2 linked regions of the Homo sapiens genome follow. The protein of the gene in region 1 purifies or fractionates together with the protein of each later gene. This does not show direct contact. Each region holds a gene or a part of one and is shown in the gene's direction. Other genes may lie near its edges.

Region 1 (7,022 bases):
GCAGGTGGGGAGGCTAGAGGCACACTTACTGAACTGGGAACAGTGACCCCGTGACTGAGGCCCAAAGATGGAATTGCTAGTGGGAGGTGTGACTGGAGCAGGAAGATGACAGAACTGTCTGGGGTGGAGGGGTGGGGTGGGCTGATGGCTGGACAGCGTCCATGATTGTTCTCTCACTTCCCTCTCTGTCCAGAACCCCGAGCAGTCTGCGGATGAAGATGCTGAGAAAAATGAGGAGGATTCAGAAGGTGAGCCAAAGAACCTTTGTTGCAAATAGGAAGTCCAGAGTTAGTGTTGCCCTTCGCCTGGTTTCTTGGCTGCCCTCCAGTCTGGCTTTTCAACATTCAGGATCTTTTTCTCCCTCCATTACCACTAGGCTCTTCAGATGAGGATGAGGATGAGGACGGAGTCAGTGCTGCAACTTTCTTGAAGAAGAAATCAGAAGCTCCTTCTGGGGAGAGTCGCAAGTTCCTCAAAAAGATGGATGTAAGAGCCAGGGTTAGATGGATGATTTCCTGCCAGAGGTAGTTCCTGAGTCCCTGGGGGAAAAAGACAAGACTCAAACCCCTAGGGTTGGGAGGGGTGGAATTTAGTGGAGTTGAGAACAAGCTTCCTCTTACATCAGAGCAGTGGGCAAACAGGGATCTGGGCCCAGCTCTGCCAGGGGAAGCTGTGTGTGTTCCTGCGGCCAAATTGCAGCATCACTCTGGGACTTGATGGTGAGTCCCAGCCCTTGGTATCTTGATTCCATGAGTAGCTGCTCTTGTTCTACTCATGTAAATAAATCTCGAACATGCGTTAGTAAGGAGGAGACACCAGTCAATCTCCCTGTCTTCTTGCTGATCCTCTTTTCTTCCCTCTAAGGATGAAGATGAGGACTCAGAAGATTCCGAAGATGATGAAGACTGGGACACAGGTTCCACATCTTCCGATTCCGACTCAGAGGAGGAAGAAGGGAAACAAACCGCGCTGGCCTCAAGATTTCTTAAAAAGTAAGGAAAGTAGTGGGACCTAGGGTTACACTGGAACTGGTGGAAAGCTCTTAATTGTCTGGAAGGTTATTGATTCTTCCATGGAGTCCTTTTAGGTTGGAGCAGCCAACTGTTAGCATTTTACAGTAGGATCAGAGAGTCAAGTACATTAGTTGGCTAAAGTCACGAAGCTAATGTGTCCTAAAGATGAGAATTGAAGGCTCCAGAGTCCAAATATTTACCCACAGCCTTACTCACTGCGTGTGGATTGGGTGCAAATCTCACTTTGGCACCCGATACCTGTGTGACATTGGACAAACTACTTAGCCTGTCTAATCTTCAGTTTTCTCATCTGTAAAATAAGGCAGGGAACCCTCCCTTCCAGAATAGCTGCAGGAATACAGGGAGGTGTGATGTAAGAAAGTAGTTCATCTAGGACTGACGTGTGGTGAGCCCTCAGTGTGCGTTGCTACTGTGTTACCCTTCCTGATAACTTCTTAGTACACATACAGCATACAGACTGCCGCAAGTGTTCATGACCTTTACTGGGACAGTCAGAATAGGGGAGGATCCCAGTGTGGATTCTGTCTCCCAGCCTTTATCAGCTGTACAACATTGTATAAGTTACTTGACCTTAAGTCTTAGTTTCTCCCTTTGAAGTAAAAGTGATACCTGCTCTTTTGTATCCCATGGGAGTGAAATCTCAAGCTCACTAAAAATAGTGCTTTTATTTATTTTTTCTTAGCCAGTTTGCACAAACTACAGATAAAAAGTGCTTTTTTTGAGACAGGGTCTCACTCTTCCCAGGCTGGAGTGTAGTGATGCAATCTTGGCTCACTGCAACCACAACCTCTTGGGCTCAGGTGATCTTCCCACCTCAGGCTCCTGGGTAGCTGGGACTACAGGTACACTCCAGTACATCCGGCTAATTCTTGTGTTTTTAATACAGACAAGATTTCACCATGTTACCCATGCTGATCTTGAACTCCTGGGCTTAAGCGATCCTCCCGCCTCAGCCTCCCAAAGTGCTGGGGTTATAGGCGTGAGCCACTGCACCCAGACAAATAGTACCCTTTTAATGGGAAGATTATTGCTCTCAAGGTTGCTTTCCTGTGTTTAAAAGTTGTGGTCGTGCTGCTTTAGGGAGGTAGTGAGTTTCCAGCCCTCTAGAGGTCTAGAGAGGCTGAACAACTTACTTGGTGGGCATTTTGTTGAGAAGGCCTTTTTTGTCCAGTGCTTCAGGGAACACTGGTCAAGGTCTGGGCCACATTGTCTATCACACCCCTTCTTGGAGGGTTTACAACCACCTCTGGAAAGTTCCATGAGAATAAATATACCTAACTTTGTTTTATTAACCATCTCAAAAACTTGCTTGATCATGAAACTCGTTTTTTTAACCTGTTGACATCTTACAGAACTATCAGCGTTACTATTGGTTCAGGTCTTTTATATCTACTGTACTTTGTGTTTTTGTCTTTGAATAATTGTGTATTGAAGTCTCCCATTGTGTGGACTCCGGTGTGTGATGTGCACTGCACATGTGTGTTACACAAAGGCTCCTGTCTGAGGGAGCAAATGGGGCCTAAAATTAAACTTAAGACATCAAGGCTGGGCACGGTGGCTTACGCCTGTAATCCCAGCACTTTGGGAGGCCGAGGCGGGCAGATCACGAAGTCAGGAGATCGAGACCATCCTGGCTAACACAGTGAAACCCAGTCTCTACTAAAAATACAAAAAATTAGCCAGACATGGTGGCAGGCGCCTGTAGTCCCAGCTACTCGGAAAGCTGAGGCAGGAGAATCGCTTGAACTGGGAGGCAGAGGTTGCAGTGAGCCGAGATCGTGCCACTGCACTCCAGTCTGGGCGACAGAGCAAGACTCTGTCTCAGAAAACGAAACAAAACAAAAAAAACTCTAAGACTATAAAGCTATACTTTTATAAATACAGACTCAAAAGTTCTTAACAACATAGTAGAAAACCAAACACAGCAACATACAATAAGGATTATATGGGAGCACCCCCTCCTTGCCTGTAGGGGGATGGAGGATGGGTGGGCTCATCTCCCAAAAAAGTTTTAAAAAAAAATTTAATAACAAGGAGGATTTATCCCAATAATAGAAGGATGTTTTAATATGAAAATCAACTAATATACTATATCAATAGAATAACAGACAAAAGCCGTAGAGTCATCTCAGCAGATGCAAAAAAAAGCATTTGAAAAAAATCCTAATATTCTTTCATGATAAAAGACTGAAGCTAGGAATAGAAGGGAGCTTCCCTCTACCTGATAAAGGATGTTTATGAAAAGGACGTTTCCTGTCCTTTTATTTTTAACTCTGCCATGCTGTATGATTAAGAGTGTTTCTTGGCTGGGCGTGGTGGCTCACGCCTGTAATCCCAGCACTTTGGGAGGCGGAGGCAGGCAAATCACAAGGTCAGGAGTTCGAGACCAGCCTGGCCAACATGGCGAAACCCCATCTCTACTAAAAATACAAAAAAATTAGCCCGGTGTGGTGGCCTGCGCCTGTAGTCCCAGCTACTCATGAGGCTAAGGCAGGAGAATTGCTTGAACCCGGGAGGCGGAGGTTGCAGTGTGCCGAGATCGCGCCATTGCACTTCAGCTTTGGGCAACAGAGCAAGACTCCGTCTCAGGAAAAAAAAAAAAAAAAAAAAAAAAGAGTGTCTCTTAAGCACAGCTAGGTTTTTGGTTTGTTTTTTTTTTAATCTCATAAAATCTCTGCTTTTTTTTTCTTTTATTGTGATACATAACATTTCCCATTTTAACCATTTTCAGGTATACAAATCAGTGGCATTTAGTACGTTCACATTGTGCAATGACCGCCAGAACTTGATCTCTGCTTCTCTGGCAATTTAGTTCATTTACGTTTATTATAGTTATTTACATATATATGATGGTTATTTATATATGTGTCTACATAATTAGTTTTTATCAAGATGGGGTCTTGCCCTGTTGCCCAGGATGGTCTCGAACTCCTGGGCTCGAGTAACCCTTCTGCCTGGGCCTCCTAAAGTGCTGGGATTACAGGCGTGAGCCACTGCGCCCAGCCTATTGTGGTTATCAATGCATTTATTCTTACCATTTTATGGTATCTTATACTTTCTGTTTATCCTCTTTATTTTAAATTTTGTAATAGCTTTATTGAGGTGTACATGACATACAATAACTGCACTTGTTTAAAGTTTTTTTTTTTTTTTTTTTTTTTTGAGACAGAGTCTTGCACTGTCGCCCAGGCTGGAGTGCAGTGGCGCAATCTCGGCTCACTGCAAGCTCCACCTCCCGGGTTCACACCATTCTCCTGCCTCAGCCTCCTGAGTAGCTGGGACTACAGCCACCCGCCACCACGCCTGGCTAATTTTTTGTACTTTTAGTAGAGACAGGGTTTCACCATGTTAGCCAGGATGGTCTCGATCTCCTGACCTCGTGATCCACCCGCCTCGGCCTTCCACTAAGTGCTGGGATTACAGGCATGAGCCACCGCACCCAGCCTTAAAGTTAAATTTAATAAGTTGTGACATATGTTTACACCCATAGAACTCACCACAATCAAAACATAATATCCTAAAAATTTCACACCTAAACATTTCCACCTTCCCCTTTGTAATACTTCTCCCTGCCTCAGTTTCCTCACCCTATCCCTGGGCAACCACTAATTTGCTTTCTGTCACTAGGTAAGTTAGCATTTTCTAGAATTTTATGTAAATGGAATCAACGGTATATAATTTGGAGGGGGTAGTTTCTTTAATCATAATTATTTTGAAATTCATTCTGTCTTCTAAAGATTGGGCATCTCTAATTCCAAAGTCTGAAACTTCTGGAGCACCATAAGTGGACAATTCCACATCTGACCTCATGTGACAGGTTGCAGTCAAAACTTTGTTTCATGCACAAAATTATTTAAAATACTATGTAAAATTGCCATCAGGCTGTTTGTATAAGGTGTAGATGAAACACACAAATTTCATAGTTAGACTTGGAGCCCTTCCCAAGATACCCCATTATATATATGCAATTATTTGAAATTTGAAACACTTCTGGTTCTAAGCATTTCAGATAAGGGATATTCAGCCTGTATTTTATTTTTCTTTTATTTGTGTGTTTTTTGTTTTTGTTTTTGAGAAGGAGTCTCACTGTGTTGCCCCGGCTGGAATGCAGCGGTGCAATCCTGGCCCACTGCAACCTCTGCCTCCTGGGTTCAAGTGATTCTCAGGCCTCAGCCTCCTGGGTAGCTGGGACTACACGTGAGCACCACCACGCCCAGCTAATTTTTATATTTTTAGTAGAGATGAGGTTTCAGCATGTTGGCCAGGCTGGTCTTGAACTCCTGACCTTAGATGATTCGCTCGCCTCAGCCTCCCAGAGTACTGGGATTACAGGCATGAGCCACCACACCTAGCCTACATGTATTTTCTCATCCTCTTTTTTTTTTCCCCGTTTCTAGTTATATATATTTTCTTATTATTCATTTTGTTTTTTTCTGCTGGTTTGGGAGTTAGACGTGCTATGCTTTTAGAGGTTATTCTTGAATTTTTTTTTTTTTTTTTTTGAGACACTAGCCTGTTGCCGAGGCTAGAATGCAGTGAGTGGCGCAATCTCGGCTCACTGCAAGCTCCGCCTCCCGGGTTCACGCCATTCTCCTGCCTCAGCCTCCTGAGTAGCTGGGACTACAGGCACCTGCCACCATGCCCAGCTAAATTTTTTTGTATTTTTAGTAGAGACGGGGTTTCACTGTGTTAGCCAGGATGGTCTCGATCTCCTGACCTCGTGATCTGCCCACCTCAGCCTCCCAAAGTGCTGGAATTACAGGCGTGAACCACCGCACCCAGCCAAATTTTTTTTTGTTAACCTGTAAACTAACTTGTATACCTAATCAGAATAGTCTAAAATTAGTTGAATCAATGTTCTGAGGAAAACCCTTGAGAAAATAAAGTTAGAATTTCAAGTGTCAGAATCTTTTTGACATTGAGAGTTTGTGGCTTTGTAGTGTAGAAGAATAATTCACAGACACTATTTCACTTGTGTAACAAGGGAGACAGATTTTCAGATTAATTTCCAACCGAGCAAAAGCAGGATTTATATAGGAGAAAGAGGAACAAGGAGAGAGGGCAAAACCACAGAACAGTGGATTCTGTTTGCCCGTTTTTCTGTGTAAACTCTGATATTAACTCTCCTTGAGTATGCCACCCAGGGTTGGTGGATGCTCTAGAAAACACGATAGGCCCTCTGCCAGTAAGGGTTTTCAGCAACTCCAGATTCAGCCAGTCTAAATATACCCTTTCCATCATCAGCATTTCTCAGCCTTCATCTTTTGGTCAAAACAAGCTTGTAAAGGAGTGGGTTTATTCTCATGAGCTTCAGCCTCTTTGATGTGGGATAAGGCCATCTGTTGTCTTATGGTGATCTGAAGGTATTAGGGGGAAGTTCATCTATACCTGATGTCATGATTGACCTGTGAACTCTTTTTCTTTTTTTCTTTTTTTAGATGGAGTCTTGCTCTGTTGCCCAGGCTGGAGTGCAGTGGTGCAATCTCATCTCACTGCAACCTCCGCCTCCCTGGTTCAAGCAGTTCTCCTCAGCCTCCCAAGTAGCTGGGATTACAGGCACGTGCCACCACGCCTGGCTAATTTTTTGTATTTTTAGTAGAGACGGGGTTTCGCCGTGTTAGCCAGGATGGTCTCGATCTCCTTATCTCTTGATTGCCTGCCTCGGCTTCCCAAAGTGCTGGGATTACAGGCGTGAGCCACTGCGCCCAGCGACCTGTGAACTCTTACAGAGCTGCTGTCTACTTCTAAGAGTTACCTGATTCTGGAGGCGTTTTTTTGTTTTTGTTTTTGTTTTTTAAGTGAACCCCAGGATCTCTAGTGAGACTGAATGTCCGAGTTAGGATCCTAAGCAAGGGTATACATCTAGGGCTTTCCATCAGTAGTTGTGGTTGGGAAGGCATGGGAAAATGGTGTGGTCCTCTGCAGTGTAGTTAGGCCTGACTTCCGTTGGTGTCTCTCAATAATGAGTTTTTAGTCTCTTAACTATGT
Region 2 (7,149 bases), on another chromosome or scaffold:
GCAGTGGCACAACCTCGGCTCACTGCAGCCTCTGCCTCCTGGGCTCAAGTGATCCTCCTGCCTCAGCCTCCTGAGTAGCTGGGATTACAGGCGCCTGCGGCCACACCCGGCTAAATTTTGTATTTTTAGTAGAGATAGGGTTTCACCATGTTGGCCAGGCTAGTCTTGAACTCCTGACCTCAAGTGATCCTCCTGCCTCACTCTCCCAAAGTGCTGGGATTACCGGTGGGAGCCACTGTGCCTCGCTCTCTAAATAAACAATTTAAAAAATTAGCCGGGCACAGTGGTGCACGCCTATAGTCTCAACTACTCAGGAGGAGGCGGCGGGAGGATCACGAGCCTGGGAGTTTGAGGCTGCAGTGAGCCATGATTGCGCCACTGTGCTCCCGGCCTGGGTGACAGAGTGAGACCTTGTCTCAAAAACAAAAAGAAAAAAATCTACCCCTGGAAGCACAACACAGGCCACGCTGCAGGTCAGCCTGGGAGCCTCATCCGGCCATCTCTGCTGCCAGGGTTGGTGCGGTGCCTCAGGTTTCCCACTCCTTCACCTCAGAGGCTCAGAAATAGACCAGCGGAGGCCAGGCCTGCTGGCTCATGCCTGTAGCACTTTGGGAGGCAGAGTTGGGAGAACTGCTTGAGCCCAGGAGTTGAAGACCAGACTGAGCAACATAGTGAGACCCCATCTCTACAGAAAAACAAAAAGGTAGCCCGATGTGGTGGTGTGGATCTGTACTACCAGATACTCAGGAAGCTAAGGTGAGCCTGTGAGACTGAAGCTACAGTGAGGTGCGACGGCACCACTGTACTCCAGCCTGGGTGACAGAGTGAGACCCTGTTAAAAAATAATAATAGGCCAGGCGCAGTGGCTCACGCCTGTAATCCCAGCACTTCGGGAGGCCAAGGCGGGCGGATCACGAGGTCAGGAGAGTGAGACCATCCTGACTAACAGGATGAAACCCGTCTCTACTAAAAATACAAAAAATTAGCCGGGTGTGGTGGCAGGCGCCTGTAGTCCCAGCTACTCGGGAGGCTGAGGCAGGAGAATTGCTTGAACCCGGGAGGTGGAGCTTGCAGTGATCCGAGATAGCACCACTGCACTCCAGCCTGGGCGACAGAGTGAGACTCCATCTCAAAAAATAAATAAATAAATAAATAAAGATAATAATAAAAACAAAAAATCGAGTAAGTTTTTGTTGTTGTTGTTGGTTTTTTTTTTTTTTTTTTTTTGAGATGGATTTTTGCTCGTTGCCCAGGCTGGAGTGAAATGGTGCAATCTCCGCTCACTACGCCCTCTGCCTCCAGGGTACAAGTGATTCTCCCGCCTCAGCCTCCTGAGTAGCTGAGATTACAGGCATGTGCCACCATGCCTGGCTAATTTTTGTATTTTTAGTAGAGATGGGGTTTCACCATGTTGTTCAGGCTGGTCTCGAACTCCTGACCTCATGTAATGCATCCGCCCACCTTGGCCTCCCAAAGTGCTGGGATTACAGGTGTGAGCCACCATGCCCGGCCATAATTTCCTTCTTCTAATAAGGACATCAATCACTGATTTAGGGTCCACTCTCGTCCACTTTGACTTCATCTTGATTACATCTGGGAAGACTGCTTCCAAACACAGTAGCCCCCCCGACCCCCAGTTTCACATTGCACTGTTTCAGTTACTTATGGTCAATTAGGTTGGAAAATATTACATAATGAAGAAAATTTGACAGAGAGAGACACAGACACACCACCAGACACCACATCCACATAACTTTTATGACAATATATTGTTATAATTGTTCTATTAGTTATTGCTGTTAATCTCTTACTGTGCCCTATTGTAAGCATGCATATGTAGAAAAAACATACTCCCAGGCGTATTGGCTCACACCTGTAATCCCAGCACTTTGGGAGGCCGAGGCAGGCGGATCACAAGGTCAGGAGATCGAGACCATCCTGGCTAATACGGTGAAACCTCGTCTCTACTAAAAAAATACAAAAAAAATCAGCCAGGCGTGGTGGCGGGCACCTGTATTCCCAGCTACTTGGGAGGCTGAGGCAAGAGAATGGCGTGAACCCGGGAGGTGGAGCTTGCAGTGAGCCGAGATCGTGCCACTGCACTCCAGCCTAGGCGACAGAGCAACACTCCGTCTAAATAAAAAAAAAAAAAATTGTCATCCCTTATTGTACAGATGCGGAAACTGAGGTGGAGGCATTAAGTGACCTGCCCAAAGATACACCACTGACAGCATGATGAGGAGTAGTCAAACCTGGTACTAGGCATGGGAAGACTCTGCTTCTTTTTCGCTCTTTTAAACACCGTTAGGATGGGATGGGTGTGGTGGCTCATGCCTATAGTCCCGGCACTTTGGGAAGCTGAGGGAGGAAGACTGCTTGAGGCCAGGAGTTTGAGACCAGCCTGGGCAACACAGTGAGATGCTATCTACAAATAAAGAAATTAGCTGGGCACGGTGGCACATACCTTCAGTCCCAAGTACTTGGCAATGTACTTAATGTCACTGAACTGTACACTAAATTGCATATTAAAATGGCTAGGCCCTGCGCGGTGGTTCACGCTTGTAATCCTGGCACTTTGGGAGGCTGAGGTGGGAGGATTCTCTTGAGGCTGGAAGGTCCCGATTGCAGCGGCGCTGTGATTATGCCACCGCACTCTAGCCTGGGCAACAGAGCGAGACCCTATCTCTGAAAACAAACAAAACAAAAAAACTATAGGATGAAATATACATAAAATTTACCTTTTTGGCATTTTATTTTATTTTTTCGAAGACAGGGTCTCGCTATGTTGCCCTGACTGGTCTTGAACTCTTGGGCTCAAGTGATCCTCCTGTCTTGGCCTCCCAAAGTACTGGGAAGAGAGGTGTGAGCCACCGCGCAGGGCCTAGCCATTTTAATATGAAGTTTAGTATACAGTTCAGTGGCATCAAGTACATTCACCATGTTGTACCATCACCACCGTCATCTCCAAAACGTTCTCATCCTCCCAAATTGAAGGTCCGTCCCCGATAAACACTCCCCACTCTCCACCCCAGCCTCTGGGTACCACCTGTTTTATTTATTTATTTAATTTTCGTAGAGATGAGGGCTGGCGTGCGGGGGGTGGTGGTGCTATGTTGGCAAGGCTGGTCTCCAACTCCTAAGCTCAAGCGATCTTCCCACCTCAGCCTCCCAAAGTGCTGGGATAACAGGCGTGATCCACTGGGTTGTTTTCTAGGATGATTAAGACATCCCCCAACCAGTGGTTGTCCTCCACTCCGGCAAAAAACAAGATAGAAGCCACATGCACCCAATGCCCGTCCCGTGAGCACCCGCGCAGAGCGAACCGCTCCGGTCCCTCCGGAGTCAGCCTCGAGCTCCACGCGGCGAGGACCCGCCCCCGCCCCCACGTGACCCGCGCTGTCCCGCGCTGAAGGCGGCGGCCTCGGATGGACTGAACCACTGTGAAAGCCCGAATGGGGGGAAACAGGCAGTGACGGCCGCTAGGGAAGGACTGGGGGTAAGCGATTAAAGAAACTTCCATACATTTTTGTATCGCGCCAGGCAGTCGTCCTTCTAGTCGTGTGGGCCCTCTCTGGCTCGCCCCGAATTCCTTTTCTATTTTGAAGTAGTCTGTCCTTTTGCTCAGTCAGTAGGCGAGTCCAAGTGACAGACACGGACAGGGGGGACTTTAGTAACGTAAACTAAACGGTTTCCCTAGCGAAAGGCTCAGACGCCCTGAGCAATCGCCTGTTGAGTCTCCACTCTTCCAGGGTATTAACTGTTGAGTTAGAGGACATTTTCCTAGCATTCCGGGTACTAAAATCATTTCTTGTCCCCGCCTTCAGCTCCACAAATAGTTCAGTCCCGCCCCGCAGCGTCCGACGGGAAAGGAAAGGGGGAGGACGCCATGTTGGACGGAACCATCTGCTGCCACACATGGGGTGGTCAATGCTCCCATGAGTTTACTGATGCACAGAAACAACCTTGCTGAATGGAATTAAGCACTTTCTTGTCACAAATATATCAGTTTGATGATTTTCGGGCGCGGTCTTGTGGATGCGAGTCCTCTCAGGGTCGTTCGTGAGGCCCCAGGGCGTGGGTGCGCCCCCCGCCCCGCGGCCTTGGTGCGGCCTCCCCGTCGCACGCACATGGCTGGGCTGTAGCCGTCGCGGCGCGCGGTGCGGCCTGGGAGAGTCGGAAGCGCGGCGGCCGCGGAGCCCTGCGAGTAGGCAGCGTTGGGCCCATGCAGGACGCGGAGAACGTGGCGGTGCCCGAGGCGGCCGAGGAGCGCGCCGAGCCCGGCCAGCAGCAGCCGGCCGCCGAGCCGCCGCCAGCCGAGGGGCTGCTGCGGCCCGCGGGGCCCGGCGCTCCGGAGGCCGCGGGGACCGAGGCCTCCAGTGAGGAGGTGGGGATCGCGGAGGCCGGGCCGGAGTCCGAGGTGAGGACCGAGCCGGCGGCCGAGGCAGAGGCGGCCTCCGGCCCGTCCGAGTCGCCCTCGCCGCCGGCCGCCGAGGAGCTGCCCGGGTCGCATGCTGAGCCCCCTGTCCCGGCACAGGGCGAGGCCCCAGGAGAGCAGGCTCGGGACGAGCGCTCCGACAGCCGGGCCCAGGCGGTGTCCGAGGACGCGGGAGGAAACGAGGGCAGAGCGGCCGAGGCCGAACCCCGGGCGCTGGAGAACGGCGACGCGGACGAGCCCTCCTTCAGCGACCCCGAGGACTTCGTGGACGACGTGAGCGAGGAAGGTGAGGGCGCCCGGGGCGGGGCTGGCGAGCGGCGCGGGAGCGTGGCTGGGGTTCCCGAGGTGGGAGATATCGTCGGGCTGTGCCACCGGTTCGTGCAGAAGTTCCAGCGAGGGTGTCCGTGTGTTCCTGAGAAGCCACCGAGGGAGGGGTTCCCGAGTGCCCTGGAAGTGTTCTGAGAGCCCAGCGCCTCCCCTTTTCTTTCCTGAAAAAGGGGACAGGGTGGAGCTCACTTCGGGAGCCAGGCATTTGCATGACAACCAGAAATCTGAGAGGGTGGGAGAGGGCACATGGGGTACTCCGTTATGGCTGGGTGTGCTGTGAGTGTAGCAGCTGGGGGTACGGCAAAAACCGAAGACCCGGTGGCAGGTTTGCGGGTCTACGTGTCCCCAGAGCTGACCAGTCAGACCTCCCAAGGTCTGGATCGGAGGAACAGCTTGTGGCAGAGCCGGTGATTTTGTCCTCCTGCCCCTCAGAATTGTCCATCTCCAGAGACTTCCTTAGTGGGACAGGCACCCTGTGAAATTCCAGTTTGATTTTTCTTTATCTCTTGCGCTAAATCTATAAAGAGAGTTATTTTTCCAGGTTTTAATATTGCCGATAACAGCCAGCTTTGCCTTCATCTCAACCTTGATTGGATTTACAGGCATATTTTTGCTTCCTGTCTCAGAGATTTTTTCCTGAAGCTACTTCTGATGAGAGCTGGTCTCATTTGTTTTTCTTTTGTTTTTTAGCTCTCTTAAGCCTTTAAGTTGGGAACACATCAGCCTCTGCAGATTGGCTAAGTTGATACTAGAGTGAGAAAAATAAAAATACCCTTGCTGATGTAGCCAGCGATACACCAGGACAATTTCGGGAATAACATGGAGTTGCCAATTTATGATTTAAACGTATTTTTAAAAGGCTATCAGAGGGCCGGGCTGGGTGGCTCACGCCTGTAATCCCAGCACTTTGGGAGGCCGAGACGGGTGGATCACGAGGTCACCATCCTGGCTAACACGGTGAAACCCCGTCTCTACTAAAAATAAAAAAAAATTAGCCGGGCGTGGTGGCGGGCACCTGGATTTCCCAGCTACTCTGGAGGCTGAGGCAGGAGAATGGTGTGAACCTGGGAGGCGGAGCTTGCAGTGAGCCGAGATCCTGCCACTGCACTCCATCCTGGGCGACAGAGCAAGACTCCGTCTCAAAAAAAAAAAAAAAAGAAAAAGAAAAAAAGGTTATCAGAAATACAAGTCAGCCAGGTGTGCTGGTGCACACCTGTAGTCTCAGGTACTTGGGAGGCTGAGGCACGAGAATCACTTTAACCCAGGAGGTGGAGGTTGCAGTGAGCCTAGATCCCACCACTGCCTGGGCGACAGAGTGAGACCCTGTCTCAAAAAGTGAAAAATTAAAAAATAAAAACGCTGTCAGTTACTGTGACCATTACTATATTACACTTTTTTTTTTCATAAAAGACATTTTAGCATGAAAAGCAGGAAGGACACCACAAACTAAAGACTTTGGGAACATCTAGTCTACGCCCCTCAGTCCTGAGGAAACTTGTCCCTGAAGGTGGAGTAGGCTGCTGAGAATTCCCAGTGGGTCTATACTGCTTGGCCCACCAGACTCTCCTGCTCAGAACAGTGTTCTTTCTAACGCTTCAATTGTTATTATGGTTTAAAAATCAAAACTTTTGGTTTAATGATTATTTTGAGCCCTTGGATATTCTGCTACTTTTTTAAAAAGCATTATTTGAGCCCATCGAATTCACAGATTTCTAATACGTAGATTACTTCTGGAATTGGGAAGAGTCAGAGGATGCTAATATGACGACAGGGTTGGCCAGGCTGGGTGACGGCTGTGGGTCCTCAGCGGGCCCACGTGGCCCTGAAGGTGCAGTGTTGGCCAGAGTGACAGGTGAGGCATCTGGTCCTGAGGACTAAGGCTCAGGAAGCCGACTTTGTCATGGCCCTCCTGGTTGTGGTAACGCAGGTTTTGTGCTTTATGAGAAGAGCTGCCCTTCAGGGTCATTGTGCAAGACCGTAGGTGACTGTATCAGTTCTTTCCAGAAGGGCCAAGTCTTCCAAGGAGCAGGCCAGAGGTGGCCTGGAGTCCCTGTCTTGCTTTATTACTTTTTTGGTACAGATTAGCTTCTCAAACTGTAATCATCCTTTCAGTTTAATGTTTCAGCTGATCCAGGATTTTAACTCTAAATGTCTTTTTTGGCTCATTAACTATTCTTTCTCTTTCTATTTGCTATTTAGTGTTGAGAATTGTTCTCTTCTGTTTTTCCTGGAGACCGCTTGGGAATCCATGAGCCACGTGTAACCGATGCTTGGGCTGAGAGTGATCAAGGCGTTGTGTCTTCATGGTGTAGTTACTTCATTTATTTCCTTCCTACGTGTGGGCAGTTTCTCCTAGACTAGACGCTTTGAGCTTGTGGGAAGGAGTA

Evidence for each region.
Region 2: the proteins of EIF3C (region 1) and EIF3B purify together in Homo sapiens (affinity purification with mass spectrometry; 10 studies listed by BioGRID and IntAct, with this or other methods). This does not show direct contact.

Annotation. Positions count from the first base shown.
Region 1 is NC_000016.10:28,714,443-28,721,464, forward strand, and holds part of EIF3C (eukaryotic translation initiation factor 3 subunit C), read left to right. Parts: coding exon 1-4; intron 5-193; coding exon 194-248; intron 249-376; coding exon 377-486; intron 487-864; coding exon 865-992; intron 993-3,833; exon of another isoform or gene 3,834-6,590; intron 6,591-7,022. UniProt on the Homo sapiens protein: Component of the eukaryotic translation initiation factor 3 (eIF-3) complex, which is required for several steps in the initiation of protein synthesis.
Region 2 is NC_000007.14:2,350,700-2,357,848, forward strand, and holds the start of EIF3B (eukaryotic translation initiation factor 3 subunit B), read left to right. Parts: upstream 1-4,127; 5' UTR 4,128-4,222; coding exon 4,223-4,721; intron 4,722-7,149.